Homo sapiens: one gene and its partners. The protein of the gene in region 3 interacts with the protein of the main gene of each other region in a pairwise test. Each region holds a gene or a part of one and is shown on either strand. Other genes may lie near its edges.

Region 1 (7,515 bases), on a different chromosome or scaffold from region 3:
AGCCTGCCCCCACCCCAACTTTGTTCTAGAACAGTTGGTCCATGTGCCACCTACTATGATCTGAATGTCTGTGTCCCCTCCCCAAATTCCTATGTTGAAATCCTAACCCCCAAGATGATGGTATCAGGGCTGAGGCCTTTGGGAGGTGATTAGGTCATAAAGATGGAGGCCTCATGAATGGTATCAGTGTCCTTAGAAAAGTGGCCCCAGAGAGACCCTTCACCTCCTCCACCCTGTGAAGACACAGCAAGAAGGTGCCGTCTGTGAACCAGAAAGTGGACCCTCAACAGACACGGAATCTGCAACACCTTGATCTAGGATTTCCAGCCTCCAGAACAGTGAGAAACAGGCTCCTGCTGTTGACAAGCCTCCTGGTCTACCGTAGTTTATTACAGCAGCCCGAACAGACTAAGACACCGTCTCTGAGCACTTTGCCTGCAGTCATGGACAAAGCATGCCCAGCACAGGCCCTGACCAGGTGCCTCTCAGCCTCACGTGCTGTCCCTCTTGGAAAGAGCTCTCCTAGGGAGCAGGGACTCTGTCTTTCCTACTCACACACCCTCTACCCTCCATCCCCATCCACAAGTCACCCAGACAATGCCAGCCTGTTTTGTGCTCAGAATATCATGAGGACTTTGTCGGACAGTGGCAGAGTGCCACATCTCCCTGGTTCTAGAAAACATGATCCTACAAGAGGGTGGGGAAAAGAGCACATGCGGATCATTGTCCCTGGAGGCAGTGGGCACACGGAGCCCATGGCCCATCAAAGGACAGTGCCCTGGTGAGCAGCCACCACTTCAGATTTTCCAGTTTGTGGATTTTGTGCAGTAGACACAGAGCCTGCCTGCTGGAATCAAGAGGCCTAGTCACCAGCCATGTGGCCTGCGCACATTACCTCCCATTCCTAGCCTGTATGTTGGGTGACACCCACCAGCAAGCCTCTGTGGGATTAAATGAAGCCATGCAGGCAAAGTGCCTGTGGCAGTGCTGGGACTCAGCAAGCCCTCAGTAACAGGTTCCCCTCCTGCGCTGACGCCATGGCAGCTGTGGCTGCCATTCCCCCATCCGCCAGCAGGTGCCCTCACTGCTTCATGCCTTCTATGGAACCCAGGGCTGTGGGTGACTGTGTCTGTGAGAAAAATAAAATCCCTAGGGGGAAGTGCGCGTTCAGGGTAGCTCTCTGAACTCATGTCGGCACCCGGCCTCGCCATCCATAAATGGGGATGATGACCCCCACTTCCTTGTGTTCCCAGAGGTGAAGGTCCCAAGCCCTGTCCACCAGGGCAGGTGCCTGGGGCCACACCTGAGATGACCATGAAGACTGGATTTGGGAGGCTGCCGATGTCTGCATGGAGCTGGCATTTGACTGGCAATTGCCCATCTTGAGCAGGGTTTTCATCGAGGGCTCGGAGCTTTAGAGGTGCAGCGTCACTCAGGTTCAAGGTGCTCAGCAACTCTGTGCCCTTGGGCAGCTACTTAACACTTCTGAGCCTCTGTTAGCTCATCAGTAAAATGGGAGTCATCTTACCTACCTCAAAAACCAATGCACCTACTGTTACGGATGGGCAACTCCTGCCCATTAATCTTTCCCTGAACACGTCCCTCTCCCCACAATCTCCTCCCTCCCCCTGAACACACACAAACTGGAGGTGGTAACCTCTTCCTTCCCCAGGCTGGCTCTGCAATGGCAACTTTCCAATTCCTACTTTGTGGAAACCCACCCAAGGCCACGTTATTAATATTTGACAGAAGCCCCAGACCCACCCTCTTATTCACACCCACTGGGAAGACCAAGGATACTCACTGAGTTATTATTGGCTGAAATTATTTTTTCATATCCTGCTGGAAACCAAAATATGGTCCTGGGCTTCTGATAAGTATCAACCACCTCATTCACCAGCAGGTGGCCCAGAGCACCTGCAGAAGCTGTGCTGGGGAATGAAGACAGGCCCATCTTTACTTACCAATGCCTCTCTCTTACCAATGTCTCTCTCTCTCACCAATGCCTCTGTTTTACAAATGCCTCCTCTCACCAACGCCTCTCTCTCTCTCTCTCACACACCAGTGCCTCTCTCTCACCAGTGCCTCTCTCTGTCTCACCAACGCCTCTCTCTCACCAATGCCTCTCTATTTACCAATGTCTCTCTATTACCAGTGCCTCACTCCTCACCAGTGCTTCTTACATCCAAACAGGGCACTTCCATGTCCTCCTCTGGTGGTCAAGCACAGACAAAGCTGGAGTCATCCACCATTGGCTAAGGTTTAATGAGCACTCACCAGAGGCTGGGCTCTGCTTGGGTGCTGAGCATATGCTAGGGTGGGGAAGGAGAGGGGCAGATGGGGGTGGCTGGAGGATGCCCTGCCGAGGGTAGAGTCTGGTCAGGAAGATGAACGTCGAGCGGAGAACTCCAGGTGGGAGGAGGGGGTCACAGAGATAGGGACAAACCCCCTTGACCCTGGCCGGGCTGCCTTCCTCATCCTCTGAAGCCTCTTTCAGAGATTGCTGCCCCTCTGCCTTATCAAAGGAGGGCTGGGACTGCTGAGCTCCACTGAGTTGCCCCTGGGAGCGAGCTTTCCCCAAAGGCTCAGGCCCAAGTAGGAATGAGTTAGCAACAAAGGCTTGAAATAAGTAGGAAATCACCAAACCAAACCACAAACAAAAGCCCTCCAGGCCAGGTAAGGACATTATTAGGAGTTGATAGGATCTTCTTGTTCTTAATTAGTATGTGCTGATAGGAAATCTCCAAGCAGCTTTCGCTGGACTGCCTGAGGGTCATCTCACCTCTCTTCAGGCTGCGGCTTCCTGTGGCCACCTTGCTTTAAGGCTTGTTCCCAGGACGGTCTCCTGGGGAGGAAGAAGATGTCCTCTCAGAGGCCAGCAGGTCCAACTAACGAGCTATGAGATGCCCAAGGTGGATGAGGACCTGGGCTCCTAAAGTCCCACAGCCCATTGTGTCCAGAGAGATGCTGCCCTGGGGACCCGACACAATGGCACCTTGGTTGCAGCCGTCCGGGCTGGCAGCTCACAGAGGCACAGTGGGGTTTTCTCATTTCAAATGCCTGGCCCCTTTCCAGAGGCACTTAGAATGGCCAGCTGATGGGCGTGCTACTTTTGCTTTGGAAAATGCGTCCACGAATATACTTCTCTCCCTAGGGACTGGGAAGGAGGAAGAATTGTGCAGCAGGGAGAGGTGAAGGCCCCACTGGAGAGAAGGGGAGCCCCTTGTCCTGCCTGCAGCAGCTGCCAATGGAAAGAAAGAAGAGTTGGGAGTCTAAGCTGGAGGTTGCGGGGCCAATTCCCTTTTGGCAGGCGAGAATCCGGACTCGGGCGGATTTCAGGCTTCAGTGTTTGTAGGAGGAAACACAGCAATCACACTATTAATAGTAAATTAAAATAAATGGGCAACTGCTGCATGGTAATACTTTTTTTTTTAAGGCAAAAAATAAAAAATAGTGAAACAGAGAAACAAAACATGAAACACCGGCAGTCAACAGGCAGGCAAAGAACCTGGGGGTGGGGGTAGCAGCGGTCCCACCCTCAAAAGGCCCGGGCTGCCCAGACCAAGAGAAAGCGATGAATCTCTTCTGGTAACGTCCCTTCCTGTCGCATGGATTCAAGGCCGACCTGCCCCAGCACCACCACCAGCAGCCTTCTGCTGGGGCCGGCACAGCTGGGAGCAACCTCCTACTCTCAGGCAGACGCGCAGCACCAAGCAGAGAGGCCCGGTGCAGGATCCCAGCGCCGAACCAGCGCCGGCTCAGTGGACGCGGAAGGGGCCGGCGGCCGCGGCCGGTCCCATCCCCCACTGCAGACCCCCAGCCTGTGGCGGTGGTCCAGTTCCGCCAGGAAACCGCCGCCTGGAGCTGTGGGTCGCGCACATTAACGCATCCAGCGGAAAAATGAAGGAGACCCAAATTCAAAGTTAAAGTAATGGTGACCCGAGAGGTGCCTTGATGAGAAGGTTTGGGGTCCCGGTTACTGATGGTTATCATTCTTACGAGATGCTGGTCACCTACGAAGGGAGAAAGGCACGAGGAGCGCCTGACCAAAGTGGTTTTGCCCTGCTTCCCGCAAGAGGTGGCACCCACGGCTGGAACGCAGGAGTCAGACCCACAGTCCCCAGCTCTGGACGCCCGCAGCGGGGCCTCGAAGAGGTTCAGGGCGGTGCCCGCGGCGCTCGGGCCGGGTCTCCCGGGGCGTGGGGCGGGGGGCGGGGTTGGGCGGCGGCCGGGGCTCCTCCCTCTTCTGCCCCGGGCTCCCCTGCTCTTAACCCGCGCGCGGGGGCGCCCAGGCCACTGGGCTCCGCGGAGCCAGCGAGAGGTCTGCGCGGAGTCTGAGCGGCGCTCGTCCCGTCCCAAGGCCGACGCCAGCACGCCGTCATGGCCCCCGCAGCGGCGACGGGGGGCAGCACCCTGCCCAGTGGCTTCTCGGTCTTCACCACCTTGCCCGACTTGCTCTTCATCTTTGAGTTTGTGAGTGGCTCCTGGCCGGGGAAGGGACGGGGTGGGCTGAGCCGTGCGCTCTCTCGGGCGCCCAGCACAGCTGTCGGACGGGATCCGCTAGCTGCGCAGGTTCTGGGAGCATCGGGGCAGCAGGCGCAGGGCGGGGACTAAGCCAGGGAAGTCCCCTCCCACCTCCGGTCCTTTGTGCCCTTCTAGACCAACAGAATGAGGGGAACAGTCTACAGGACTATGGAGGAAAAACTGGGTTCCCAACTGGGGTCAGATGTAGGCAGCGGGGCAGGGGGGGACGGCTCTTGGTTCGCTGGTCCCAAAGCTGCGCGCGGGGCCCACTTGACGCGCGCAGCGCCACCGAAGCTCCCGCCGCGCTTTGCGCGGTTGGGTAGAAGTGCGCAGCTTTTACAAGGGAGAAGGTTTCGTTAAAAAAGAAAAAAAAATCAGCAAGAGAAACATTAGTATTACCAACCGAGATTTGGAGATGAGAGGGAGCTGAATCCGGTTTATTTTCTTCTGGCCTTTTAAAGTTTCTGGCGAGGGAACGTATTTGCGACCAATTCGATCTGGAAATGAGGCCATCGTTTGCTTGGCCGCAGTCCTTCTGCCCCGTGTGCGGGGTGGGGGTGGAGGAGATGGGGGGTGGGGGGTGGGGGGTGGCGGCGAGAGCGATCCGCGCGCCTCGACTGACCTTGGGCAGGCCCGGGGCCTCTGCACCTGCGGTCGGTCCCGCCTTGCACGCACGGTCTCTGCCTGAGGCTGCAGGAAAGCGCTTCCTACTGAGAACTCCTGATAAGCGCTCACGGTGTCGCGAAGCCGAAGTGACCTCCCTCAGCCTCAACTCCCCGGGGGCCGCTGGCCTTCACCTGGGAGGGGTGTGCCCTGTATGTCCTGTGGGTGCGGTCCGTCACCGCCTGAGGGACACCTTTTCCGGCACCCCACCCTCAGAAGTGTCAGCGTGGAGAGTTGGGCGGGAAAGAAAATGTCGGAGCCTGGCTGTTTAAAAATTGGACCCCAGGTTGTTATTGCCTGATTGGAGGGGGAGGGTGTGAATACCAAAGGGAGCAGGTCAGTTCATCCAAAGAGGGCTTGCGGGCAGAGGCTAAGAGGGCTGCGGCGGCCTGGGAGCAGGGCTACCATTGAACTTAGGGTGAAAGTCCAGTCGAACCCAAACCTGGGTGGAACCGGTGACTTGAAATCCTAGGGATAGGCGGAATCAAAGCAGTTACATTTAGAAGAAACCCTGGACGCCAATGAACGCAGCCCCACCGTTTACAGAGAGCCAGCCCCCCGCTGGCCTCCTTTTAGAAGTTCAGCATACAAGAAGGAGTGCCCCTGAGAGTAGGAACAGTCCAGTTAGACGGGGCGATCTGATCTGCGGGAAAGGTGACCGGAGACTCCCACCCAACCCGCCAATGCTGCAGAAATTACAGGGGCGTGGGAAACCTTGGAACCATCTACTACTGGCAGCTTGCTCTTCCAGCGTGGCTTTGTGGCCTGCCGGTAGCGGGGCTTCCAGAAGAAACAACTCCCCCTCGCCCAGAACGCTTCTCTCAGCTGACTTAGAAAGTCACTTCTCCACCTCACCCCTGTTCCCCACCTCCCTTCCTCACTTCCCAGGAGACCCGCAATGCATAGTCATCTCCAGGCATCTTCCACATGCTCTAGATTAGGGGTGGGCTCGCAGGTGCCTGGGAGAGAAGAGGAGAAAGCTGACCCCAAGCCTCTCAGTTCTCCTCTGCATGGACTGTAAATACGAAGCTGTATATATTTGATGTGTGGAAGGAGTGGAGAATTAAAGGGCCTGAGAAGGCGCTGGCCACCCCGGGAGAGTTTTTGTTTTTGTTTTTGTTTTTGCTTTTGAGACGGAGTCTCGCTCTGTCGCCCAGGCTGGAGTGCAGTGGCGCGATCTTGGCTCACTGCAGGCTCCGCCTCCCGGGTTCACGCCATTCTCCTGCCTCAGCCTCCCAGCTACTCGAGAGGTTTTTTTAATTATGGAATATTACAACTCGACAACAAAAAGACAACCCAATTAGAAAATGGACAATGGACTTGAACAGAGGTTTCTACAAAGAAGATACACAAATGGCCAATATGCACATAAAAAGATGCTTAACATCATCAGGCATTAGGAAAACTAAATTGAAACCACAATGAGGCCAGTTGCGGTGACTCACGCCTGTAATCCCAGCACTTTGGGAGGCTGAGGTGGGTGGATCACCTGAGGTCAGGAGTTCGAGACCAGACTGACCAACATGGTGAAACCCCATCTCTACTAAAAATACAAAAAAAAAAAAAAAAAAAAAAAACCCGGCTTGGGTGGCTCATGCCTGTAGTCCCAGCTACTCAGCAGGCTAAGGCATGAGCATCGCTTGAACCTGGGAGGCAGAGGTTGCAGTAAGCCGAGATCATGCCGCTGCACTCCAGCCTGGGCAACAGAGTGAGACTCGGTCTCAAAAAAATAAATTAATAAGTAAATAAATTAAATAAATAGAAAGAAAGAAATCACAATGAGATACCACTTCACACCCATTAGGATGGCTACTATCCAAAAAACGGAAAACATCAAGTATTGGATGTGGAGAAATTGGAACCCTTGGTATGCCACTGGCGGGAATGTGAAATGGTTCAGCCACTGTGGAAAACAGTTTGGTGTTCCCTCAAAAAATTACCCTCTGACCCAGCAATTCCACTCCTGGGTATATAACCAAAGGATTCCAAGCAGGGACTTTAGTATTGGCACATGCATGTTCATAGCAGCAGTCTTCACAATAACACACAGCCCAGTGGCCATCAGCAATGAACTGAATAACAAAGTGCGACATATCCAAACAATGGATACTACCTGACCATAGAAAGGAATGAAGTACTGATACGTGCTACAAAGTTGATAAACCTTGAAAACTCTATGCTAAGCAAAAGACACAAGGCACAAAATGTCATATAGTGTATGATTCCGTTTATATAAAATACTGGAATAGATAAATCCATAGAGACAGAACACAAACCCTGGTGGTTTGCCAGGGACCAAGGGGAGCAATTGTTTAATCGCTATGTGGT
Region 2 (8,182 bases), on a different chromosome or scaffold from region 3:
GCCCAGAAGGGATCATTCAATGGAAAAAAATAGAACATCCTCGTAAACTGAGGTCGTCTTACCTCCTCACACCCCAGTAGGAAGGGCCCGCTCTTACCCACTACCTTCTGTGAACACTCTGCCCAACTCCATCCCAAATCCACGGTGCTTCTCACCAACAGCAGGGCAGGAGAGCCGGGTGCCCTGCTCCTCACTCCCTCTTAGGATACCCGAGTTCTAGCTCAGTCTCCTGCCCACTCCCCACATCGAAGCCTACTTCCTTCTAAAATGCCACCAGGAGATCGCTGCACACATAAAAGCTCTCAACTGCTCCTTGCAACCCCAGGAGTGTGCATAGGAGGCCTCTCACCAGCTGGGGGTCATCTGTGGGGCCTACACCAAACCCTGTACATGCCACTCAAACTCAAGTGCTCACCTCCCCTGCCCAACTCCGCCAGGAGAGAATCTAGTATTCCTGCAAACTCCTATCTCTGGCCCAGCATCTCTTACAAGGCTTTCTATCTCTTGACAGACCCATCTTCCCTTTGAACGCCAGCATCTGGCAGCGTCTAAACCCTATGGACTCAGGAAAGCCTGCGATTGTTGAAAAATTCACAGCCACATGGTCACGTTCCTTGGGGAGGCCATTTCTCTCTGGGTCTCTGTTTCCACCTCAGTAAAAGAGAAAACGGGCCAGGTGCAGTGGGGCACGCCTGTAATCACAGAACTCTGGAGGCCAAGGTGGAGGATCACTTGAACCCAGGAGTTTGAGACCAGCCTGGGCAACACAGTGAAACCCCATCTCTAAAACAAAATACAAAAATTAGCTGGGTGTAGTAGTGCATACCTGTAGTCCCAGCTACTCAGGAGGCTGAGGTGGGAGGGCCTGAGCCTGGGAGGTCGAGGCTGCAGTGAGCAGAGATTGTGCCACTGCACTCCAGCCTGGGCGACAGAGCAAGACCCTATCTCAAACCACCCCTTTGTTCCTTCAGCCTGTACTGAGCACTTCCTACCAGAGCCACTGTTGGGTCTTGGCATAAAAAAGAAAAAATGTAGAATTGAGTAAGACGACAGCTCTCAAGGATCCTCCAATCTGGGGCAGAGCTCACCCGCATTTGGAATCATTCACCCTTCTAGGAAGATTTAATTATAAACCTCAGCTCAAATCCTTGGCGTGCTTACAGCTTTCCAGGCACCCAGTTAAGTGCTGTACATGCGATAGCTTATTTTAGGGGTCAGCAAAGGTTTTTCTGAAAAGGGCCAGATTGTCTTCAGCTCTGCAGGCGTTAAGTTCCCTATGGCAACTGTTCAACTGTGCCTTCTTAGCTCGAAATCAACTACAGGTAACGCATAAACCAAGGAGTGTGGCTGTGTTCCTACAAACCTTCATTCACAAAAACAGGCCAGAGGTGGATTTGGCCTTCTGGTCAGTTTGCTGATACCTTGCCTGGTTTAATCCTCACACACCTGAGGTGGTTACTATTATAATCCCCATTCCACAGAAGAAAAACTGAGGCTTGGAAAGATGGGGACCACCCGAGACCACCCAGCTCCGAGGATGAAAATGAGGAGTTCTGAACCCAGGCAGTCTGACTTGAGAAGCTAAACTCCAAAGTACCCATTTCTCTCTGCACGAAATTGGGTGCACACACAAAACTTTGTACACGATTTCCCGGGCCCACACAGTCCCAGCTGCCCATGCTGGTGAAGAATCACTGATCTAGGGTAGATTTTTTTTTTTTATTTTTGACAGGGTCTCGCTCTGTCGCCCAGGCTGGAGTGCAGTGGCATGATGTTGGGTCACTGCAACCTCTGCCTCCTGGGTTCAAGGGATTCTCCTGCCTCAGCCTCCTGAGTAGCTGGGATTACAGGTGCACACCACCATGCCCAGCTAATTTTCATATTTTCAGTAGAGACGGGGTTTCACCACGTTGGCTAGGCTGGTCTTGAACTCCTGACCTCAGGTCATCAGCCCGTATGGTAGGGTTTTTAAAGCATTATTGACATTTAAAGCTGGATCATTTTCTGGGGTGAGGCCGTCCTGGGTACTGCAGGGTGCCGAGCAGCAACCCTGGCCTCCACCAACTCCAAACCAGGGGGTCCCCCAAATCATGACAAGCACAAATGTCACCAAGAATCCCTGGGGCACAGAATTGTTCCTGGTTGAGAACCACTGGTCAAGGGAGGGAAAAGGCAGACAAAAGGAATAATCAGAGACAGAAACAAAAGAAAATGGGACAATCATTCAACCTCTGAAGGGCACACTACACTGCAATTTTCTGGCACCTAATAACAAAAACAGCTATTCTCAAGCCAGCTCTCTCTTATCAAGTTCCAGGCACCTGATCAAATAATTGAATGTGGGTTTATCCTCATAATGACCCTCCGAGGCATCTGCTTTTACAACTCGTTTGCGAAAGAAGGAACAGTTTGCTCAGAGAGGGAAGGCGACTCACCCAGGTTTACACAGCGGGTGGGAGGTGGTGGTGGACGGTCCTGAATCCCAGATTTCCCCCACCTCTAGCACGATATGCAGAAGAAGACTCTAAACATGATATAAGACGAACGCCTGCTAATTCTTTGGAGTTCTCAGATTCCGCTGGACCCTGCGGCTCTCCTTCTCCTAGGCAGGGACTTTTGAACAACGCCCGTTTTACAGAGGGGAAAACTGAGGCTCCGAGAAGCCAAGAGGCTGGGCAAGGTCACCCAGGTAGGGACTGGCGGCGCTGGAACCAGAGTTCCGACTTCAGTCCCCACAAACGGGGGTCCCTGAGTCACAGGGACGACGTTTCCAGGCGGTTAATAAGAGCGGAACGGCAGCGAACACCCAGCGAGCGCTCACTACATGCGGGGCGCCTTCCCCTCCCGCCGTCCTCGCCACCAGGCCGCGGACCAGCATTTCCAGGACCTGGGGCCTGGGGAAGGGAGATCAGGGCTCGAAGGGCCTGCCCGATGGCGCCCGGCCTCAGTTTCCCCTCCGCACCGCCTACTCACAGGACCCCGCGGGTCGCGGTGACCCTGGCCTCACGATCCCCAAACTCTTACGAGCTTTGGGGCCCCGTGGGCCCCGAGCCGCAGACCCCAGACCCACCAGGCTCAGCGCAGTGCCCCTCACTCACCTCTCAGGCGACCGATCCCCGACCCACCGACGGTTGCGCTTGCGCACCGCGGTGCCGCCCGGCCCCGGCCCCAGGGCGCGACGCCTGCGCAAAAGAAAGGCGCCCGGAGTTGCTTCCCTTCTGCACAGGCGCGTTAATGATGGAGGCGGGCGTGGAAGGAAGTGACGCAACGTAGAGGCGGGAACCAGCTGGTTGTTAGGGCAACTGACCTCTGCGACCTAATGGAGGCCGGAAATCGGGTCTGGTTTGCCCTCTAGAGCGGGAATGAAGCGGTGCACGGTGGAACAGTGGCTGACTCCAGCCGGTCGCCGAGCTGACCACGTGGTGCTGGGCCGGCCACGTGGTGCAGCCGCGTTTGGACACCTGGACTCCAGAGCGTCACAGCTGCGCAATGAATGGGAGTCAGTGTTACCCGCTTACTATCTTTGTTCATTTATTCACCCACCCATCTACTCACCCACAAATGCATTCTTTCATGCAGTGTGAGACGTTTGTGAGTATAGAGCCATTTGTAGACAGCAGGTGCCTAATATTCATTCAATATTTATTGCAAAGCAGCCATAAAAACCAGCAAAGTGTCTACTCTCATTATTTTGCATTGGGGTAGACGGACTATAAACTAATAAACTAGTACATAAATAGAGAAACAAATTTCACAGCAAACACTAAGAAAAAAAAAATGAAGGTAGTGTGATTGTCACTGGGAGCTAAGTCGCATGGGATGGGTAGGAAAGATCATCCTTTACATTTGGATTTCAAGGATAGGAAAGTCCAAACGGACCCCAGGCACAGGGAACAGCGAAAATGAACGCCGATGTAAAATTAATCTTGGTGTTGCTCAAGACATGTGATGAGACATTTCCAAGGACGACAGAAAACTGATCACCATCTAAGTTACAGTTGCCAGAAATGTTCTCCCAATTCATTTTCGTCCTACTCAAAATACATGCACGATTAATGGCGTGGATTATTTTAATTTCTTTTGCAGAAATAAAGGAGGTGAGGCCGGCCGTGGTGGCTCACGCCTGTAATCCCAGCACTTTGGGAGGCCAGGGGGCAGATCACTTGATGTCAGGAGTTCGAGACCAGCCTGGCCAACACGGTGAAACCCTGTATCTACTAAAAATGCAAAAATTAGCCGGGCGTGGTGCGGGCATTTGTAGTCCCAGCTACTCGGGACGCTGAGACAGGAGAATCGCTTGAACCCGAGAGGCAGAGGTTGCAGCGAGCCGAGATCGCGCCATTGCACTCCAGCCTGGGCGACTGAGCGAGACTCCCTCCAGCCCCTCCAAAGCAAAAGAAAACAAAACAAAAACAAAAAAAGGGAAGAAAGGAGGTCGGTTGTTTTGGTTTTTGCCAGTTTAATTGTAGTACATTGTTTTTTCTGGGTGCCCTAACAGTTCAAGACAGATGGTTCAAGATGTTTTTTGTTTTAACCCACAACACTGCATGTAGGTCAGGCTACTGCACTGTTCCACAACACCTGTTATTTGACATGAATCCGTTTACTTGCTTTTGTTTCTGACAAAAAAAAAAAAAAAAAAAAAAACTTGGCCCGGCGCGGTGGCTCACACCTGTAATCCCAGCACTTTGGGAGGCCGAGGCGGGCGGATCACGAGGTCAAGAGATCAAGACCATCCTGGCCAACATGGTGAAACCCCCTCTTTACTAAAAATACAAAAATTAGCCGGGGTGGGGGCTGGCGCCTGTAGTCCCAGCTCCTGGAAAGGCTGAGGCAGGAAAATTACTTGAACCAGGGAGGCGGAGGTTGCAGTGAGCCGAGATTGCTGCTACTGCACTCCAGCCTGGGCGACAGAGCGAGACTCCGTCTCAAAAACAACCAAAGCACCAAAACTTCTGGTTAATTTAATTGATTCGTCGGATTCAGATGCTGGAAAGTGGGCCTGGGATATACAGTAAGCGATCAATAATAACACTGGCCCAACACACAGCTATAAGAAGCGAGGCAAGTACACATTAACGCGGTAGCCTGAAGCCCAAGCGAAGTCTCAGCGCAATGAGCCGCGCAGAGGCTCAGAGGCGTCAGCGGCGTGCGCGGTTTCCAAGGAAACCGTCCGTCCTAGCCACCCCAGCGGCTCTGGAATGGTAGAGCAAGAGGCTCCGCCCACGCACCGCCGAGACCAATAACGGACCGGGAGGGTTACGGCGAGTGCGCAGAGGGCTCCAGCGCACTCCCGGCCCTCCTCCTTTAGCTGTGGGCGGGGCTCAGGGGCGCGTGCGTCCTGCCCTCCCTGTGCGCGCGCCGCCCCAGCATGCCCCGGGAGCGCGGGCGGCGGGCCCCTTGGTCCTCAGGCGGCCGTGGCGGCGGTGGCGGCGGTTGGGCCGAGGCAGGCGGCCTCAGTGGCCGAGGTGGCTGGACGCGTAGCAGGTGGAAGGAGGGAGGGAGCCGCAGGCGCAGACCCACCCGCCATGAAGCCCCCCGCAGGTACCGACTACCCCGCTCGCCGGACCCGGGCGTCCCCTGCACCCTCGCTCCTCCCGGGGTCGCGACTTGGGCCTAAGGCTGGAGCGAAGCGACCCCCGAGCCACCCTCGGCCGGGCTGGAGGGGCAGCGGGGGAGGTGGACGACCCTGCTCTCTCGTTTGCCGAATGAATGAACCAGCTTTTCCAGCGCTTCATTCATTCTGCAAAGTTGATGGCGCTTCCCTTCCGGATGGGTCGGGCCCCGTGGCGGACCCTGGGGAGGCCGTGATTTAACGACTCCAGTCCCGTTTTCCTGGAATTCTAGAGCCACAGACAGACATTCAAAAATTAAATAAGAGAGGATCGAAGATAGGGAGGGATCGGTGCTCTGGTGCAGATAAACACGAACGGGGCAGTCCCAGGGACACGTTTTTAGAGAGAGGGTGGTTCCTGGGGGGCTTTTCTGAAGAGGTGAGCGTCGACTTGCTTGATTGGGAGAAGCAAGTGTCCTGCCAAGACCGGGGAAGGAGGCGTCCCGGGAGGAGGGAACGTGTTTGGAGAGCAGAAAGTCAGTTTGGCTGGAACGTAACGAGGGGACCTTTTAATTTTGTTATTTATTTACTTTGTCTCCCAAGCGGGAGTGCAGTGGTGCGATCACGACTCCCTGCAGCCTCGAACTCTTGGACTCAGTCAATCCTCCCGCCTCAGCCACCTGAGTAACTGGGACTACAGGCCTGCACCACCACACTTGGCTAATTTTTTGTAGAAACGAGGTTTCGCCATGTTGCCCAGGCTGGTCTTGAAGTCCTGGGTTCAAGCAATCCACCTGCCTCGGCCTCCCAAAGTGCTGGGATTACAGACATGAGCCACTGTACCCAGCCAAGACCCTTTTAATTTAGAGGCAAAGGGGCGATGTGACCTGTGTACTGTTTATTTATTTATTTGTTGGTTTATTTTTTGAGACAGTCTGTGTCTCCCAGGCTGGGGTGTAGTGGTGCAATCTCTGCTCACACAGGCTCACCGCAACCTCCGCCTCCCGGGTTCAAGCTATGCTGCTTCAGCCTCCCAAGCAGCTGGGATTTCAGGCGCCCACCACCACACCTGGCTAATTTTTTTTTTTTTTTGGAGATAGAGTCTTGGTCCGTCACCCAGGCTGGAGTGCAGTGGCGCGATCTCGGCTCACTGCAAGCTCCGCCTCCCAGGTTCACGCCATTCTCCTGCCTCAGCCTCCTGAGTAGCTGGGACTACAGGCGCCTGCCACCACGCCCAGCTAATTTTTTTTGTATTTTTAGTAGAGACGGTGCTAGCCAGGATGATCTCCATCTCCTGACCTCGTGATCCACCCGCCTCGGCCTCCCAAAGTGCTGGGATTACAGGCGTGAGTCACCACGCCCGTCACACCTGGCTAATTTTTGTATTATTAGTAGAGATGGGGTTTCACCATCTTGGCCAGGGTGGTCTCGAACTTCTGACCTCAAGTGATCCGTCTGCTTCGACCTCCGAAAGTGCTGGGATTACAGGCATGAGCCACCGTGCCCGGCCTGGGTTTTAGAAGGTCACTCAGGTTGTTGAAGCAACTCCTTGCCTGATCCTTGGCTTTTCTCTTGCCCAGCCACACTCCCCCAGCTCTTTGTCCAGCCCATTGCGATGAGGGTGATAATTGTAATAATGATAGTCAGGGATATTCAGGCCTTGGGAAGGAAGGAATGTTGTCTGCCTTGTTTGCTACTGGATCCTTGGCACAATCAGTAAATATTTACAGGATGAACTGACGTCCACAAGTTTTTCAAATCCTAACTCCTGCAGGAGAATTTTCTGACAGTTCCAGTTCCCATCCATCTCCATCCTTTCTGAGCCCCTGAAGCTCTTCTTTACCCCACGGTTTAATGTAGATCCACAGTCCCTTTTTTGCAGTTCTAAAATCCTAAATACTCTGTAAACTGAAAGGTTTGCCTTAAGTTTACAGCAAAGTCATTTGGCCAGAAAATGACCTCAACTGACCGACTGAGAGCCTTTCTTTTTCCCACTTAGCGAATATCATTGATTCTCAGCTGGGGTGATTGTGCTACCTCTGGGGACACTGGACGGTGTCTGGGGACATTTGTGGTTGTCACAGTTGGGGGGCGCTCCTGGTATGGAATGGATGGAGGCCGGGGACGCTGCTCAGCACCCTGCAGTGCCCAGGACAGCTCCACCCCAGAAAACGATCCGGCCCCAATGGCCACAGTGCAGACAGAGAGACACCCTGGTGCGTATTCCTGCATCTCACTGCAGAAAGAGTAATTTGATTTCGGAGTGCTGCCTCAGCCTCCCTAGTGATTTGGAATACATGGCACTTGGACTCTATTAATACTGTTCTACAATGGGGGGAAATTCTGAATGTTAAAATGTCCCCGGCCCCAAGACTTTTTGGACAGGAGAGCATGGTCTGTAATAACAGCTACCTCTTGAAAACTTTCTGGTGGTATTCAGGATACAAGATGTTTTGCCTTCATACCTCACTGAATTCTTAGACAGTTCTTGTTCTCTGCACCCTGAATTGTTCCCGTTTTGCAGGTGGGAAGCCTGAGAGTTAATGTTTCTTGCCAGAATCCCAGAACTAGCAACTGGCAGAGGTGGGGTCCGCACCCAGGCCATCTGACTTCAGCTTCTGCGTTCTG
Region 3 (8,263 bases):
TGTACCTCAGCCCCATGCAGGAAATTAGGAACTCCTATTCAGTATTACAAACCTTTGACTACTGCATTTTGTTTTTTGGAGGCCAAAGAAGAACCCAATAAAACTTCTCAAAGAATCTCAGGTTTTGGACAAATTATTTTTAACTCTTTGGGGGTCAGGATCACCCAAAAGGAGGATCCCCCAAACATCCTCTTTTTGTGGATATAAAGAAAGAATCTGAAGTTTCTTGCCCCAAAATAATGTATGCAGAGACACATAACCTAGAGGAGTACTGACCATGCATGTGTCCTCTGCCCCCAGTCATGGAGCCCAGGTTAAAGACCCATACATCCACAAATAATTATATTCAAACATGTTGCATCCCTTTAGAGATTCTCAGAACTTGGGGAAGGGGAAATTATTTCCTTAATTCCAGGAGGTTAAGATAGTTTTATAGAAGAACTTCCATTAACTCTCTAAACGAGCTGTTTTCAGTTTTTGTTTTTGTTTTTTTGCTAGTGTACTCTGTAAATGATTATTTTAAGACTAGGTACTCCTTGACATAATTTTTAGTTGATAGCTTAACATTTTTCATCAAAAGTTTAAATAGTTGCAAAGGTTGTAATTTCTGGCATATTGTAAATTTATACACGTAAAAGTAAAACAATTACATCACTCTTTTAAATGTATCCAGTTAAATTAAATGCCCTAGCAATTCGATACCTACAATCATCCATTTAAAAAATACATGAACAAGCTCTTTTCTAAGAGTCAGACATTTTGCATCATTTCTTTTTCTATTTGAAGTCAAATTTCTACTCCATGTTCCACCACAAAATTTTATCATAATGTGTTTTTTTTTAATGCGTCAGAGGCTTACTGATGACTCTTTTAAAAAGTCCTGCAATAATTTAAACAGCTTCATTAAGGTACAACTGGCATAAAATAAGCTATACATATTTAAAGTATACAATTGACATAAATATATGCTTGCTGTGTTAGGCTGTTTGCGTTACTATAAATATATGAGATTGGGTAATTTATAAAGAAAAGAGGTTTAATTGGCTTACAGTTCTGCAGGCTATACAAGCATGGCTCCAGCATTTGCTTCTGGCGAGGGGCTCAGGAAACTTCCAATCATGGCGGAAGGTAATGGGGTAGCAGACATCTCACATGGCATCATCAGGACCAAGAGACAGGGAAGGTGGAGTTCCCAGACTCTTAAACAACCAGATCCAGCGTGAACTGAGAGTGAGAATTCATTTATCACCAAGTGGATAATGCTAAACTATTCATGAGGGATCTGCCCCAGGATCCAGTCACCTCCAGGCCCCACCTCCAACATTAGGAATCACATTTCAACATGAGATTTGGAGGGGACAAACATCCAAATCACATCACTCTCTAAACCAGTCCTACAAACTTTGATAAATAATTATTAAGTAGAAAAAGTAAAGTTGTTTTAGAAATACCTGTCTTAATTAGGTGGCTGTGGCAATTTTTCTCTCCAATTAGCTCACTAAAACCTCCATGAGATTGGGTATAGTCGCTCATGCCTGTAATACCAGCACTTTGGAAGGCCGAGGCACGCGGGTCACTTGAAGTCAGGAGTTTGAGACAAGCCTGGCCAATGTGGCGAAACCCCATCTCTACTAAAAATACTAAAATTAGCTAGGCATGGTGATGTGCACCTGTAATTCCAGCTACTTGGGAGGCTGAGGCACAAGAATCACTTGAACTCAGGAGGCTAAGGTTGCAGTGAGCAGAGGTTGTGCCACTGCACTCCAGCCTGGGTGATGGAGTGAGACTTTGTCAAAAACAAACAAACAAACAAACACCTCAACGAATATTGCTAGAATGAAACAGGTTTTAGCAATAATTTTATTCCTATTTTTCATTTTTTATAGCTGTCAAACCATGGTGTGGTAAAGCCATCTTGTAGTGGTTCATGAAAGTCAATTTTTAGAAATTTTGTGGCTGGGTGCCATGTAATCCCAGCACTTTGGGAAGCTAAGTTGAGAGGACTGCTTGAGCCCAGGCCTTCAAACCCAGCCTGGGCAACATAGTAAGACTGTGTCTCTACCAAAATAATAATAATAATAATAATAATAACAATAACAATAATAATAATAATTAGCTGTGCGTGGTGGCGTATGTCTAGTCCCAACTACTCAGGAGGCTGAGGTGGGAGGATCTCGTGAGCCTGGGAGGTTGAGGCTGCAATCAGCCATAATTTTGCCACTGCACTCCAGCCTGGGCTACAGAGAGAGATCCTGTTTTTTTTTTGTTGCTTTTTTTTTTATGTCATTAGCCAGTTGTTAAACATAACTATTACTAAAAATTAATTTATATGAACATACAATTATATTAAAAAAAAAGGAGGCCGGGTACAGTTGCTCACACCTGTAATCCCAGCACTTTGAGAGGCTGAGGCGGGTAGATCACGAGGTCAGGATATCGAGACCATCCTGGCCAACATGGTGAAACCCTGTCTCTACTGAAAATACAAAAATTAGCCGGGCATGGTGGTGTGTGCCTGTAGTCCCAGCTACTCTGGAGGCTGAGGAGAATCGCTTGAACTTGGGAGGCGGAGGTTGCAGTGAGCCGAGATTGCGTCACCGCACTCCAGCCTGGGTGACAAATTGAGACTCCGTCTCAAAAAAACAAAAACAAAAACAAAACCATAAAGGAAATAAATACTCAAAACTCATCACTTACTAATTATCTCACTACACTTTACTGTTATCCATGCTTTTGAGATTATTTGCACCTATTGTATCTGTGTGGTAGAAATATATCTTCCCAGCTCCATGTTCAGTGACATCTCATTGGTAGCTTGAAATCAGCCATGCTGGTAGTATTTACACTACAGAAATTGGCAAATTAGCACTCGCCACTTCCCCTAGCCAATTGTCAAACATTTACTGGCACACCACTGGCTGTAAGTGCTGAGAAACTTATAAAAGTTGGTAGGAACAGAAGAACTCTTGTTACAACAGTGTGACAATAGATAACTAAAATCACAGTTACCTATTCTATATTTAATGATCTATCTACTGACAACTAGATTAGGCCCCCCTGCAATTTTGTGGAAAGCAAAGATTGCAAACCATTTAACTTGCAAAAGGATTTCTTATTCTGGCATGAGATTTCTTCATTTTCTCAGTTTTGTTCCAAATCCTAGGGAAGCATGTTAAAAACCACTGAAAGTCATTGCTTACCTTTAAATCTGTGGAAACCCCGTGGTCAGCATTTGAAGTTTGCTTTACTGCCAAGGTTCTCTGCCACAAGAGACTTTTATTCTTTGATAATAATTAAGAGGTGGAAAAAGGGAAGTCACTACCAATTCTCCACTCCACAAAGTATATGAATTCATAATATGCCAACAGTGGCCAAAATGTCCTACTTCTAAGGCTATGTTACACCCTTAGAAAGATTTATACATAAGTCAGGGAGAGACAGGGTTAGGCTTCTTTTGTACTTCGATCATCGTAGAATGCCCACCTTCACACCCTGCAATAATTCCAACAGTACGTGTGCTTGGGGACCCAGAGAATTTTACAGTCTCCATATAGCACCCCCCTCCACTTCTTCCCTCAACCTGCTCCCACCAATGCACTGTTAGGAGGATGAAGGGTAAGGAGGACACACAACTTTCTCTTATAAAGGGTGGAAGCTTACCCTAAGAATGGAAATAAACTTGCAGACCAGTTCTCAGAGAGATCAAACTTTTGAAAAAGTTCAAAATCTGGTAGATGAAGCCCTTAGAACAGACGTCAGCCACTCTGAGACCAGCGTCAGAGTGGTCTCAGAGTGGCTGAGGCCCACCGCCTATTTTTGTTCAGCCCACTGCTAAGAATGGTTTTTGCATTTTTATTTTTTATTTTTTTGAGACGGAGTTTTGCTCTGTTGCCCAGGCTGGAGTGCAGTGGGGAGATCTCAGTTCACTGCAACCTCCGCCCCTCGGGTTCAAACGATTCTCCTGCCTCAGCCTCCAGAGCAGTTGGGATTACAGGCGCAGGCAACCATGCCTGGATAATTTTTGTATTTTGTAGAGACGGGGTTTCAGCATGTTGGCCAGGCTGGTCTCAAACTCCTGAGCTCAAGTGATCCGCCGCCTCAGCCTCCCAAAGTGCTGGGATTACAGGCATGACTCACTGCATCCGGCCTGCATTTTTATTATAAAATGTCATTTATTTATTTATTTATTTATTTATTTATTTATTTATTTATTTTTGAGACAGGGTCTCACTCGGTCACCCAGGCTGGAGTGCAGTGAGCGATCATGGCTCACTGCAACTTTCACCTCTCTGGCTCAAGCAGTCCTCCCACCTCAGCCTCCAGAGTAGCTGGGCCACAGGGGTGCACCACAATGCCTGGTTAATTTCTTTAAAAACTTTTTGTAGAGATGGGGGTCTCATTATGGTTGCCCAGGCTGGTCTCCAATTCCTGGGCTCAAGGGATCCTCCTATTCCTCGGCCTCCCAAAGTGCTGGGATTACAGGCGTGAGCCATAGAGCCCAGCCGATTTTTGCATGTTTAAATGGTTGGGAATAAAGTCAAAAGAATAATAATATTTCGTGACACATGAAAATTATATTAAATTCAAATGTCGGTGTCTATAAATAATGTTTTATTAGGACCTAGCTGCCCTCATTCCTTTAGTATTTATGGCTGCTTTTGAGCTACGACGCTCGAGTTTGAATAGTTGCCACAGGGATCGTATGGCCCGCAAAACCTAAAATATTTAGCCCTTTACAGAATAGTTTGCTGTCCCCTGTCTTAACACGGTTCACATCCCATTTGGGAAGTTCTGTGTCTTCAGAGGGGAGCACACCCGGTATGAAGGCTGGTCTAAACTCAACACCCTAGGGAAGTCCTTCCCGTCCCTGGGCCTTAGTTTCCCCAACTATAAAATGGGGTTAGCCGCAGTGATCTCTGGGGACCTGCCTGGCAGTGGGTCAAATAAATAAAGGGAGTTGGAGCTCCCGGAGGGTAGGACTAGGGGTTGAGTAGGAGCCGGCGGGCTCGGGCAGGGCGGGTCCCTTGGGGTTTCCAACTCCGCGGGCGGGCGCAGTGCCCCGCAGGCCTCGCTTCCACTGGGGAATTCCGGGCGGGGTGCGGGCGGCGGGGCGGGGGCGGGCCGGGGCGGGGCCGGTAGGCCGCCTATAAGATGGGTGGCGCGCCCGCCCGGGGCCACTCGCCGCAGCCTGCGCGCCTTCTCCAGTCCGCGGTGCCATGGCCCCCGCCCGTCTGTTCGCGCTGCTGCTGTTCTTCGTAGGCGGAGTCGCCGAGTCGGTGGGTGCTTGGAGGTTCCCGGGCTGGGGGCGAAGCGGGGGCGCAGGCCGGTGCCTCCTTTGTTCGTCGGAGCGTGGGATGGGGGGGGGCAGATCGGGGGTACGCTACCCCCAACCGGACACCGAGGCCCGGGAAACTTTGTTGGAAACTTTGCTCCGGGGTCACGGGCCAGCCTCCGGGATGGCTTCACGCGCCGTGCGCCCCTCGCCTGTTGCTCTTCCCGCCTCCCCGGGCCTCAGCCCCGCCGCGGGCTACGGGCTCGTTAGTGACTAAGCCGGTGTCAACTCTTCAACTCCCACACCCTCGTCCCTTCCCTGGTGACCCTGGGGCAGGCTTGGAGCGCTGAATCCCCTCCTCGCTCTCGGGGCGCCCAGAGCAGACAGCTTTAGGATCCGAGATGGCCCTGGGGGTCGGGGGGCTGCGTGTACTCGGAAGGGGGAGGGTTTTAGGGTTGTGCGAGGCCCTCTTTCACACACCAAGGAGAACTGAGCCCTAACCTCAGTTCTGGCCCCAGCTCTGTCATTGACTTGTGACTTAGGGCAAAGTCCTGCCCTTCTGAATCTCTTCCCAATACTGCACCAAGGGTCTGAGGGAATGGGGCAAGAGGGGACACTGCGTTAGGGTTTCTAGAAAGTTGGGGACTCTGCTCTTTTCGAGGACAGAGGAGAGGAATGGTTTAGACTCAACACTTAGCCAGGAGCTGAGCCTCTGCTTTCTGCAAGAAGTGTGTTCATTTTTTCTCAATTGCAGATAAGAAAATTGAAGCATCCACCTTGAGTGAGGTGAAGGGGGTAGGGGGGAGAGAAGGCCTCAATCAGCCCAGGGAAACCTTTCCTTCTCACTGTCCACTGGCCTCCGTCATAGCTGTCCCTGGGCCAGCAGAAGCTCTATCCATGCCCGCAGCCGGCTTAGGAGGAGGGGGGCAATCTCATCTGGGAAGTTGGGGGGCATGGGAATTACTGGTGAAGGCAATCTGTCCCCCACAGCCTGAGCTTTGTGCCCCCTTTGTGCCCTTTAGCCCCAGTTTTCAGAGCGAGTGAGTCCTTGCAGTTTAACCATTAATGTTAATTTCTTTGAAAGCCTTGGGGCTCCTGTTCCTCTGAATTTACTTAGCGGAAGGTTGATTCTGCCTGCAGGCTCTTCTTGAGGAATGAATGAGACCCTAGGCAATACTTCCAGCACAATTCCAGGCATGCCATGATGATTGCAAACGTGGAGCGCCTTTGTCGGGGGGCCAGACATTGCTCTAATAACTTTCTAATGGGTATATCCAGGAGCTTAATTCCAACAACAATCTTACTGTGTACTGTTCTTAAACTGGTCCTGAGGCTAGAGAGGTTAAGTAACTTGCCCAGGGTCACACAGTTAATACACAATAAATGGGTGAGTCAGATTGAAATTTAGGCAGCCAGGCTTTCAAGTTTCTGCTTTAGCTTAACTTCTACTCTTTGTGCTACTCCAGGTGTCCCATCGTTGGTAACTAAAGACGGGTTTAGAATAGGTTGAGATTTTAGGCTGGAAGGCAAAGGAATTCTGAGGTGGAAGGAAACAAGGCCAGAGTGAGGTGATGACTTAACCTAAACCAAAGGCTACCTTGCCTAAAATGTTAGTGGCTGAGGACCCAAGCCTTCTGCCTCTAGCACAGTGCTCTAAACTAGGCCCTGAAGGATGTGTCGGGTCAAGCAACTGGGGAAGCATCCGAAGGGATACCACCTAGGCAGTACAGGGAAAAAGAGGAAAGGACCCAGGAGGTTGCTGAGGTCACCGTGTGCCCAGTCACATGCCAGTTTCCTCCCAGGGGCTGCTGAGCCTTCAGGTGCTTCAGGGTGCTGAGCAGTCAGCTGTGTCCTGGGGGCATTCTGAAGGATGTAGTTTGGGGGAAGGGGACTGTGTCAGTCCTGCCTGGGTGACCCATCAGCTGCAGGAGACATCAGCCCTGGGCAGCTGCTTCCTGAGATAGGTGTCAAGTCTCATCCTGACCTCAGCTCTCCCCTTCCTGGCTAATGTCACAGACCTCCTGCCTGTAACTGGGGCACAGGGCTTCCCCTTTGGCCTGTCCCCTCCCTCTTTTCTAGATTGTGGTTGGAAAAATCAGACATAGTCACGGTTGGCTCGGACTGAAGAGATGATCCAGCGTGTCCTTTTCTTTTTGCAGGTAGAGAAAAGTGAGGCCCAGGGAGAAGGACTTTGCTAATAGCAGTTAGGAGTGATAGAGTACTTTTTATATGACAGATCTGGTGCATTTTGTCCTCACAAAAAGACCTGTCACATGGGGATTCTATTATGCCCACTTCCCAAATGTGAGAGGTAAAATGGTACTACTTTGGGTTAGTAGAGGGCATCCAGGACCCCAGGATCTCTGACTAGTAGCCCTCCCATTGTGGGTGGTGTTCCCCCGACTGTTCCATCATTCCCCTTACCACCCCCATATTTTGGAAGGGAACCCAGGCTCAGTACCCAGCTGTCCTCTCCTCTGTTTGGCTGGGCTTGCTATACTAAACCAGTTCTTCCTGTCCAGCTGGGAGCATTCCCTGATCTGCCTTCCTGCCACTCCCTCTCAGGCCAATTAAAGGCAGCCTTGTTTTGGGAGTCCCCTCCACCCAAAGGTGTTCCTACCCAGGGGCACAGCCTACTGACTTGGCCCCGGGCCCAGGCGGTTGTGGGGAAGTGTCCCCCACCTATCACCTATCAAGTGTACTTTAGCTTAAGGACATTTCTGGTCTTCTACAGCGTCCTCTTCTTGATTACATGGGAGTAGGGGTGGGGGCGGAAGCCTAGGGGCTTCTAGGACCCTTGAGTGAACAGTGAGAGCTCTTGGGACTTCTTGAGCCCAGGGAGTTATCAAACACCCACGAAAATATTTGGGCCATGATTTGGAGGGTTCCATGAGGTTGGGGGGAGGCCTCTTTCCCCGCTGGGCTGACATCCCCCACCTTAAAATGAAAGGTTTGAACAGGGTAGCCTCCAGAGTCCTTTCCATCTCTCAA
Region 4 (7,713 bases), on a different chromosome or scaffold from region 3:
CTGGCCAAAGCCCCGCGCCTGCGCTGCGCTTTCTGGCACCCTCACTGGAAGATGCCCACATTTCTCCTCCATCTCCTTCACTCTCCCCACCAAATCACTTACAGCCCAAAGGAACAGCTGTCCCGATCCTCAGGGTGGCCTCAAACACAAACTCGGGTGCGTTGGCTCCGCTGCTGGCGCCGCCAAAGCTGCGCTGCGGGGCTGCGCGCGCGCGAAGCAAGGGGGCAGTGGGAGGCTCCTGGCGTTCCCCTTTAACGGGAACAACGCCCTGTTTGCGTCGCTGCAGTAGGGTGTGTCCCTGGGTCAGCGTGTGCGGGAGGGCGGGACTCAGGGAGGAGAGGGGGCAGGAGAGAGGGAGGGCAGGAGACAGTCACTTGGCCTTAAATGCGCCTCAAGAAAAAGTCGGTCCCTGCAAAACCGCGGCGACTTTTACTCGAAACCAGAGGCGGCTGAGCTTTCTCACCTCCCACCTCCCTTCTCCCCTGGCCCCGTGGAGACCTAGTGTTGACCGAGAAACTGGCTCCTCAGCCCACTCTGGGAAGACCCAGCCAAATGTAGCTCAGCGGATGCCCAGGGCTGGGCTTCTGGGCCCGCCGACGCCGACCGCGCCCGCGCGGGGCTGAGGCTGGATTCCTTTCCCACTAATAGAGGGCAGCGGGCGCTTGAGCGCTGGAAGAAGTCCCTCTCCTCTCGGGTCCTGGAGCCCCTGCCCTGTCCTGGCGTCTTAGCCGGACACACCTGCCCCGCGCCGGTCCCCGCTATTACTGTCTGCACCTACGAAGCATGCCAGCTTCCTAGGATTGGCGGGGATTGATCTAGCGGGCTCCTCTTGGGTGCGAATTAGGGGAAGAAAAGTCCGGCCGACTACTGGATAGCATGGTCTGGGATTGGGCTCCTCCTAGCCTAGGCAAAACCAGACTACCACCGAATAAGCTCTAGGCAAAGTGTTCCTGCAGCAGTCGGGCTTGGCTGTCAGCCTTGGCTGGAGTCCTGGCCATGGGGTTTGGCGGGCGGGTGCGAGGTGGCCATTTGAGGTGGGGTTGGAGCAGCCAAGGAAATCAGCTGATTCATAGCCTCCTAACGTGGCCCGCCCAGCGTTACAGGGAGAGAGGCTAGCCCCCTTCAGTCTCGGCTTGGCAGAGGCGCGCCCAACTGAGACTCCCGTGCGCAGGCCAGCCTTGAGGCACGGGACAGGGAGCAGGAATGTGGATGTTAAAGGTTTCTGCCTGAAAATGCAGCAGTTCACGCACGCGCGCGCACACACACACACACACACACTTCCCTACCTCTAGTGTACTGTGTCATAGAAGCTCATCACTCTCAATGATTCAAATAATTCTATATTATTTTACGATTTGAAAGGAGCTGCTATTTTAGCTAATTGTATATTCTTACGGTAAGTAAAAATAAATTTGAAAAAGATCTTCAAACAATGATCTTTTTAAAACTATCGTGTTATCAGATTAAAATGAAGTGTACTTGTAAACACTGCATTTACAGTGCCCGTTATATGCCAAGCACTTTGCCTGGACTTTATATGCATGGTCTGTGAGAGGCAGTATGGTGCAGTGGTTAGGCACTCTGGCTCTGGGCTCCAACAAACCTAATCACCCTGCTTACTTTTGTTGTGAATTTGGGCAATTTCTCAAGTTCACTGAGCTTCAGTTTTCTCAGGTGCAAAAGGAAATAGTAATGCCTGCTTTAAAGGTTTATGGTGGTGATTGAAGGAGACAATATGTACAAAGCAGTTAACATCGTGTCTGCAACATAATAAGGGCCCAGTGCCCAAATTGCCACCACTATTATTATATCACATTTAACTCTCACATCAACCTTTCAGGGAAGACCTGACCACCTCTGCACTAAAGTAGCTTGTAACTCTGATAGGTAGGTAGGTAGGTAGGTAGATAGATAGATAGATAGATAGATATAGATAGATAGATAAAGATTTATAAATGAAAGTGCATATGCAAGTAGAAAAAAAAGTCTAAAGACATGGCAGTGTTTTCTTTCCTCCACAGGTCATTTTATAAGTTAGATTTGCTCTAGAAATTATTACTTTGTTTTATGCCATTTGGACATTTATTTATTTAACCAACACTTATGTGATCACAACATACTCAGGACTGTTCTAAGTAAGCACTTTAGAAATATGAGCATATCTAACTCAGGGTTTTCTTTCCCTTCCTTTGTGATTTTCAAATAAACTTTTTAATAAAGTCTAATACACATACAGAAAAGTGCATATATTGGGTGCTACAGCTCGCTTCTTCCTTTCTTTTGAACCCAATAGTTTAATCAATAACCACCCAGGTCACAGCCACACCATATACTGCCAGACAGGTAAACCCAACCCATCTGTCCCTCACTGCCTCTGGCCTCCTGCCTGGTTCTCAATGGTGGCAGAGGAAGTGCTACTCAGTGCCTGCTGACCAGGCTTGCCACACCCAGAGCCCGGCTGGCCAAGGCTCTGCCACAGGTGGCAGCTTCTCCCTAACCTGCTTACCAAGGCCACCTGCCAGCTGTGTGTGCACAGCTATTTTCCATGGGGGAAAAAGCATCTAGATTCCTTTCTTCCTTTCAATCTGGATGCATTAGGGTTTCTAGATGCTCTCAGATGGCCCCCCACCTCCCCAGCCAGAGTATATATCCACCTTTTAACCAAGGATATAAAAAGCCCTCTGAATCTCCAGTCAATTCCAACACAAATGCACCATCTCTCCTGCAATCCTTTTCATTTGCGGCTTGCAGGGGGTGGGAAATTAGGCAATTCTTGTAAAGCATAGGCACACATCACCCAGAGGCACAGTTTGCCAATAAAACTCACCCGGCCAAACAGCGTAACCCCTTCTTCCAAGCAGATTTCTTTGCAGCCAAATGCAAGGGATGTTAAGGCAAGACCCTCCCCACAGGGCAGTCAGAGACCCGCAGCCGACAGACTAAGCCTGCAGCTTCCAACCAGGCTCCCCGAGATGTTCCCTGGTGGTGCTCCCTGTAACTGAAGCCAGACCAGGCGTCTTTCCAGTTTATTCAGGGGCTGGTCCAATGCTGGGATATGTCATGGTGGCCTGAGAGGTTCTCAGCCTCTATTATTTAAAGAGACAGTGTCCAACTTTGTTTGCTTTCCAGAATACAATAATCCCAAGAGGCCCTGCAGGGCATGGAGAAACTGGAATCAGAAGGGAGAAGAGCTTTGAGTATGCCTGAAGCCTGTGATGCCAAGACTGTTCTCTCTGGAAGTGCCAACCTGTGTAATAGCCAAGAGGTCCCACTGGCTCCCCTCCCCTCCCAGTGAATTCTGCAGAGATTAAATATACTGTGGGAAGGATCTGTGTCTACAGTGTTACATACGTGCAGGTAAGTTTTATTTTAAATAAACTTCCTTTTAAGGAGCCCAAACATTGCACAGCTAATCTCTCACAGCATCACAGCAGTGAGCCAAATGTCTCAAGAGTCACCAAATCAAGCCTCCTTTGTTCCAACCCCTGGTTGGAAGGACTCCCTGTTACCTGCCTTGTCTGCCTAGACCCCATCGCAAATGATCACATGTGTTGTACATTAGAATAAAACTTAGGGAAATGTGTTCTTCCGACTCTGTCTTTAATGTGCCCGAATCAAGCTGACCTTCATGAGATAATTCAATGCAAGTAAACGAACCTCTATTGAAAACTATTGAAAACTTTCTAACCTGTCAGGCAGAATAGGCTGGAAGAGCAATTGGAAATTCTTGGAGAGGGAAGTAAAGGAAGTTATGGCATATTTAGGTTCTTTGCAGCGTACCACTCCAGCTCCCAGAGAGTCCTCCATCCCTTGAACCGCTTCTAGCTGCAAACTCTGACACAAGAGGACTGGTTTCATTGCATGAGTTTCCTGGAATTCTGGCACTTGGGGCATAAGACTTCCTCTTGTGTTAGGGATCCCCAGTCTGGAGAGACCTGCAGAATTTGGAGGAGTCCCTCCCTGTCACACACTTTACGTTTGATTGGACTCTCCAGTCACAAGGGCCTCTCAATGGCCCTCTCCCCTGTTCTGCCCACAGCCAGCATCTGCTCACAGCCAGCATCACAGCCAGTGCCAATAAAATAGTTTCACCTTTCTCTCTTTGCTGAAATCATTTTTATTTTTCACAGCAGTGGTTCTTTAGAATCACTCAAGAGCTTTGCAAATGACCTAGCCTGGGCCATGGTCAGAGAAGCTGACTCAGGTGTTTTGGGATGGGGCTCAGGTATGGGTAATTTCCAGTGTCTTTCTCCCCGCTGGATGTTTCGTTGTCCAGCCAGGTTGTCATGTGGAGTTAGATTGTCGCTGATTTCCTTCCAGCTCCCTTCTGTTGTGGAACCCAAATGGAGATGAGGTACAGTGTGGGCTGCTGCAGTATTATGCAAGTTATAAGTCTGTTCTGCCAGGCAAAACGGTGTGTGTGTGTGCGCGTGTATCTGTGTGTGTGTGTGTGCGCGTGTGCGTGTGTGTGACAGAGAGAGAGAGAGAGGAGCCTCCCTCAGTCCTCCTCTGACATGGTCTGTACGGGGACTGGGAACAGTGAGCATGGTTTTTGCAGCCTCTCCAGACAGTCTTTTCCTGGGTACTGCCATGATCAGCTCCAAAGGCTACACGACAGAGGCTGCTGTCCGTCAGGCCAGGATCAAGCCTGAAGACACGTAAGATTATTTCTGATCTAAGAGCTAAAGATTCAGAGGAAAAGGGGTAGGGCCTGGTGAGTGTGGGGCATGGCTTCTGGCCAGATAGGAGCAGTCTGATTAGCCCTCCCTCTCTCCTTCCATGAGCTCCACATTCTGAGACCTGCTCTCTTGGCCTCACGTCTCTTTTGCCCAGGTCCTCCATCTCCAGCAGCCAAACCCCGAAGTCCCTGTTGGCTGTCAGCAGTAGAGCTGTTCACTGTTGTGTGCCACTGGCCCTGTCTACCAGATGCCAACACACTTGTCTTTACCCATCTGGGCCAGACTCTCTTCCCTTCCCAGAGTCAGGTGAGGAAAACTCCTTCCTCGTCTCCCATTTCCAATAACCTTTTCTCAGCCAAATGGGACCCCTATCCCATGCATCTGTGTTGAGCAATGTCTCTGCAAAGCTGTAGGCTATATCCCACTGAGCCTCTTGCAAAATAAACACATAGAATAGTCACCAAATAACATTTATTATTATTTGCTATCCTCCCTTCCATTTACAGATAGGAAAAATGAGAATCGGGATTCTCTGAGGAAACACAGTTGAGTCAATGAGACTGGCTATTTCTAGCACCTGAGCTGTTCTGCTACACCACGCTCCATCGGCTCAGTAGCATCAGTTATCCGCAAGTCCTTGATAATGATGATAATAGGTTATATTTACTTCGTGTTTAGCATATGCCAGGCACCATCTTGAATATTTTATATGCATCAAATCACTTAATCCTCACAACCGTATGAAATAGGCACCCCATCATCCTCTTTTAGAAGAGGGAGAAACTGAGGCACAGCGAGATGTTCAGTCACTTTCTCAAGACACACTGCAAAGAAATGACAGAGGCTGGATTCCAACCAGGCATTCTGGCTACAGATCCCGTACTCACAGCCTGGACTATCTCACATTCTACCGTGCCCCTAATTGTGCCCAGCACGTTCCTAGCATATCTTCTCATCATGCTTCCATAGACACTATCATTTAATGTCCTATTTGTATGAAAGATATTCTCACATTATACATATTTATGCATTCACGTTTCTTTTTCCATTAAAAAGCAAGAACATATCCTAAGACATCCATTTTTTTTTCAGCACCAGTCACATTTAGTACAGCTTTCAAGAATCCTGTCTCATCCTGCCAACAAGGCTGTGTGCTCCTCCGAGGACATTTGCATTCCATATGTCTGTATAGCATAAGCACTGGCAGAATCCTGCCTGTAGGTGAGATTTTAATTTCATAAGAATGAAATGTTGTCCATGACAGTGGAATCCCAGCAGACTCTTGAAGAGGGAGGAAACCCTTCCGCACTTTATAGCTAATAAAATGCTGTTAACATATGGCAGTATCTTATTTAAGAGGAATCATTATAATCATTTTCTATGTGAAGAAACTGAGGCTTGGAAAATTTACAGTGTTTCCTCCAGGGACTAGCTAGTGAATGCCAGGGCTGGGGCTTAAAAAAGTCCATTCCTCTGACTCCCAAACCTGTAATTTTTTCACTGTGCAGGCTCCCCAGAGAGAAAACCAGAGGCAAGTCTGAATTTGGTGTTTGTCCAGGTGATGAAGTTGTTGTTGCAGCATCTATCCCACCAGGTGCTCAGTCAATATCTGAAAAGTGTTTACACTAAGAATGAAGTCTTTCCTGTGTCCTCATAGCCAGCAGCCTGTGTGGGAGTTCTTGGCCAGCCCTGGACACAGCTGGCCTGGAAGGGTCCTCAAAAGTCAGTCCTGCCTCATCTAGACTCAGCTAGACTGTTTTGATGTCGAGTGAGAGCAGCTTGTTGAAAGAACAAGCAAGGCAGGGAAAGAAGGCAGAGGGGAAGGAAGGAAGGAAGGAAGGAAAGAGGGAGGGAGGGAGGAAGGAAGGAAGGAAGGAAAGATGGAAGGAGAGAGGGAGGGAGGGAGATATAGATAGGAAGAGGGGAGGGAAGAGAAGGAGAAGGGAGAAGAAAAGGAACAGAAGGAGCCAGTTTGACTTCTGTGACAGAATCTTCTACAAATAAGCAAGTTTGAAATTATGACAGGTCCCAATCCCTAGAAGATATTCTTTATGAACAACACAGACGCAGTCAGAAAGCAACATAAAGACACACACAAAAAAAAACTCACATTGGCACAGGACTGTTCCCTAAATGACATCTTTAAAATATAGAAAGGTATCTTGGAGTAAATTGTATATTAACTCCTTCACCTGTGGGAGAGAGAAGTCACAGAATTATTATGTTGTGGCAGTGGGACCAGACCAAGTACAAAGGATTCTCTGTTCACAAATGCATTGTTGCTTAGGAAAGCCAGATTCCACAGATGCAAGTGGAGGGGGGAAAGCAGTCTTTTCTCTGACATCTCATGAGTTAGCAGCTAGAGGATTGGGGAGCAATTTAAGCAAGAGTCAGAAATGGATGTGTACTTGGGATTGCAAACTCTAAAACTTTTCTAAGACTGTTTACTCCTAAGTGAAAATGCTTCTGCTCCAGTAGGGCATAGGTTCAAATAAAATGGGGAAGCAGAGCAATCTTGCCACACGGGAATGGACGGAATGGGGAGGAATGCAGGGATTTTCTAGGCCACTGCAGACCAGGCATAGAAATGTCGAGAAAAGCAGCCTTGGCTTGATGTGAGAGATTGTCCTTATTGAGAGAGGTGCACAGGAAGGCCCATGTAACCCAAGGAAATGCCTGCTTCAGGCAGTCGAAGCCACACCAAGAAATGGAGCATTAATCTCCAGCAAGGACGAGGTGAACGCAAACGGTCCTGGATGGGACCCTGGGAGGACAAGCCCCACGACGCATCATAGTCCCCACAATGCATCATTCTGTGTGCACTTCTGAGCCTAGGGAGCACCAGTTGTACTTAAAATGAACTGGAGACCAGATGTTTTCTTCATCTCTGAGTTCCTGCACCACTTATCAAGTGTGAAACCTCAGCTAATCCAGGGAAGTTCACAGACAAAGGTCAAATCCTTTCGAGACGTTCAAGGGAAAGCCGGGCAAAACTTCAAGAATGTTTACTCTTCATTGTTAGACTAGGAAATAT

Evidence for each region.
Region 1: the proteins of SDC4 (region 3) and MAL interact in binary tests that used the Homo sapiens proteins (3 or more experiments, as listed by UniProt).
Region 2: the proteins of SDC4 (region 3) and SGTA interact in binary tests that used the Homo sapiens proteins (3 or more experiments, as listed by UniProt).
Region 4: the proteins of SDC4 (region 3) and PMP22 interact in binary tests that used the Homo sapiens proteins (3 or more experiments, as listed by UniProt).

Annotation. Positions count from the first base shown.
Region 1 is NC_000002.12:95,021,413-95,028,927, forward strand, and holds the start of MAL (myelin and lymphocyte protein), read left to right. Parts: upstream 1-4,295; 5' UTR 4,296-4,380; coding exon 4,381-4,473; intron 4,474-4,927; exon of another isoform or gene 4,928-5,021; intron 5,022-5,146; exon of another isoform or gene 5,147-5,617; intron 5,618-7,515. UniProt on the Homo sapiens protein: May be involved in vesicular trafficking from the Golgi apparatus to the cell membrane. Plays a role in the maintenance of the myelin sheath, and in axon-glia and glia-glia interactions.
Region 2 is NC_000019.10:2,780,135-2,788,316, forward strand, and holds the start of SGTA (small glutamine-rich tetratricopeptide repeat-containing protein alpha), read right to left. Parts: upstream 3,140-8,182; 5' UTR 3,099-3,139; intron 2,614-3,098; exon of another isoform or gene 2,436-2,613; intron 1-2,435. Other genes in the region: THOP1 (thimet oligopeptidase), read left to right, coding at 5,529-5,544. UniProt on the Homo sapiens protein: Co-chaperone that binds misfolded and hydrophobic patches-containing client proteins in the cytosol. Mediates their targeting to the endoplasmic reticulum but also regulates their sorting to the proteasome when targeting fails.
Region 3 is NC_000020.11:45,345,338-45,353,600, reverse strand, and holds the start of SDC4 (syndecan-4 precursor), read left to right. Parts: upstream 1-5,176; 5' UTR 5,177-5,216; coding exon 5,217-5,276; intron 5,277-8,263. UniProt on the Homo sapiens protein: Cell surface proteoglycan which regulates exosome biogenesis in concert with SDCBP and PDCD6IP.
Region 4 is NC_000017.11:15,262,327-15,270,039, forward strand, and holds the start of PMP22 (peripheral myelin protein 22), read right to left. Parts: upstream 3,001-7,713; 5' UTR 2,828-3,000; intron 227-2,827; exon of another isoform or gene 99-226; intron 1-98. UniProt on the Homo sapiens protein: Might be involved in growth regulation, and in myelinization in the peripheral nervous system.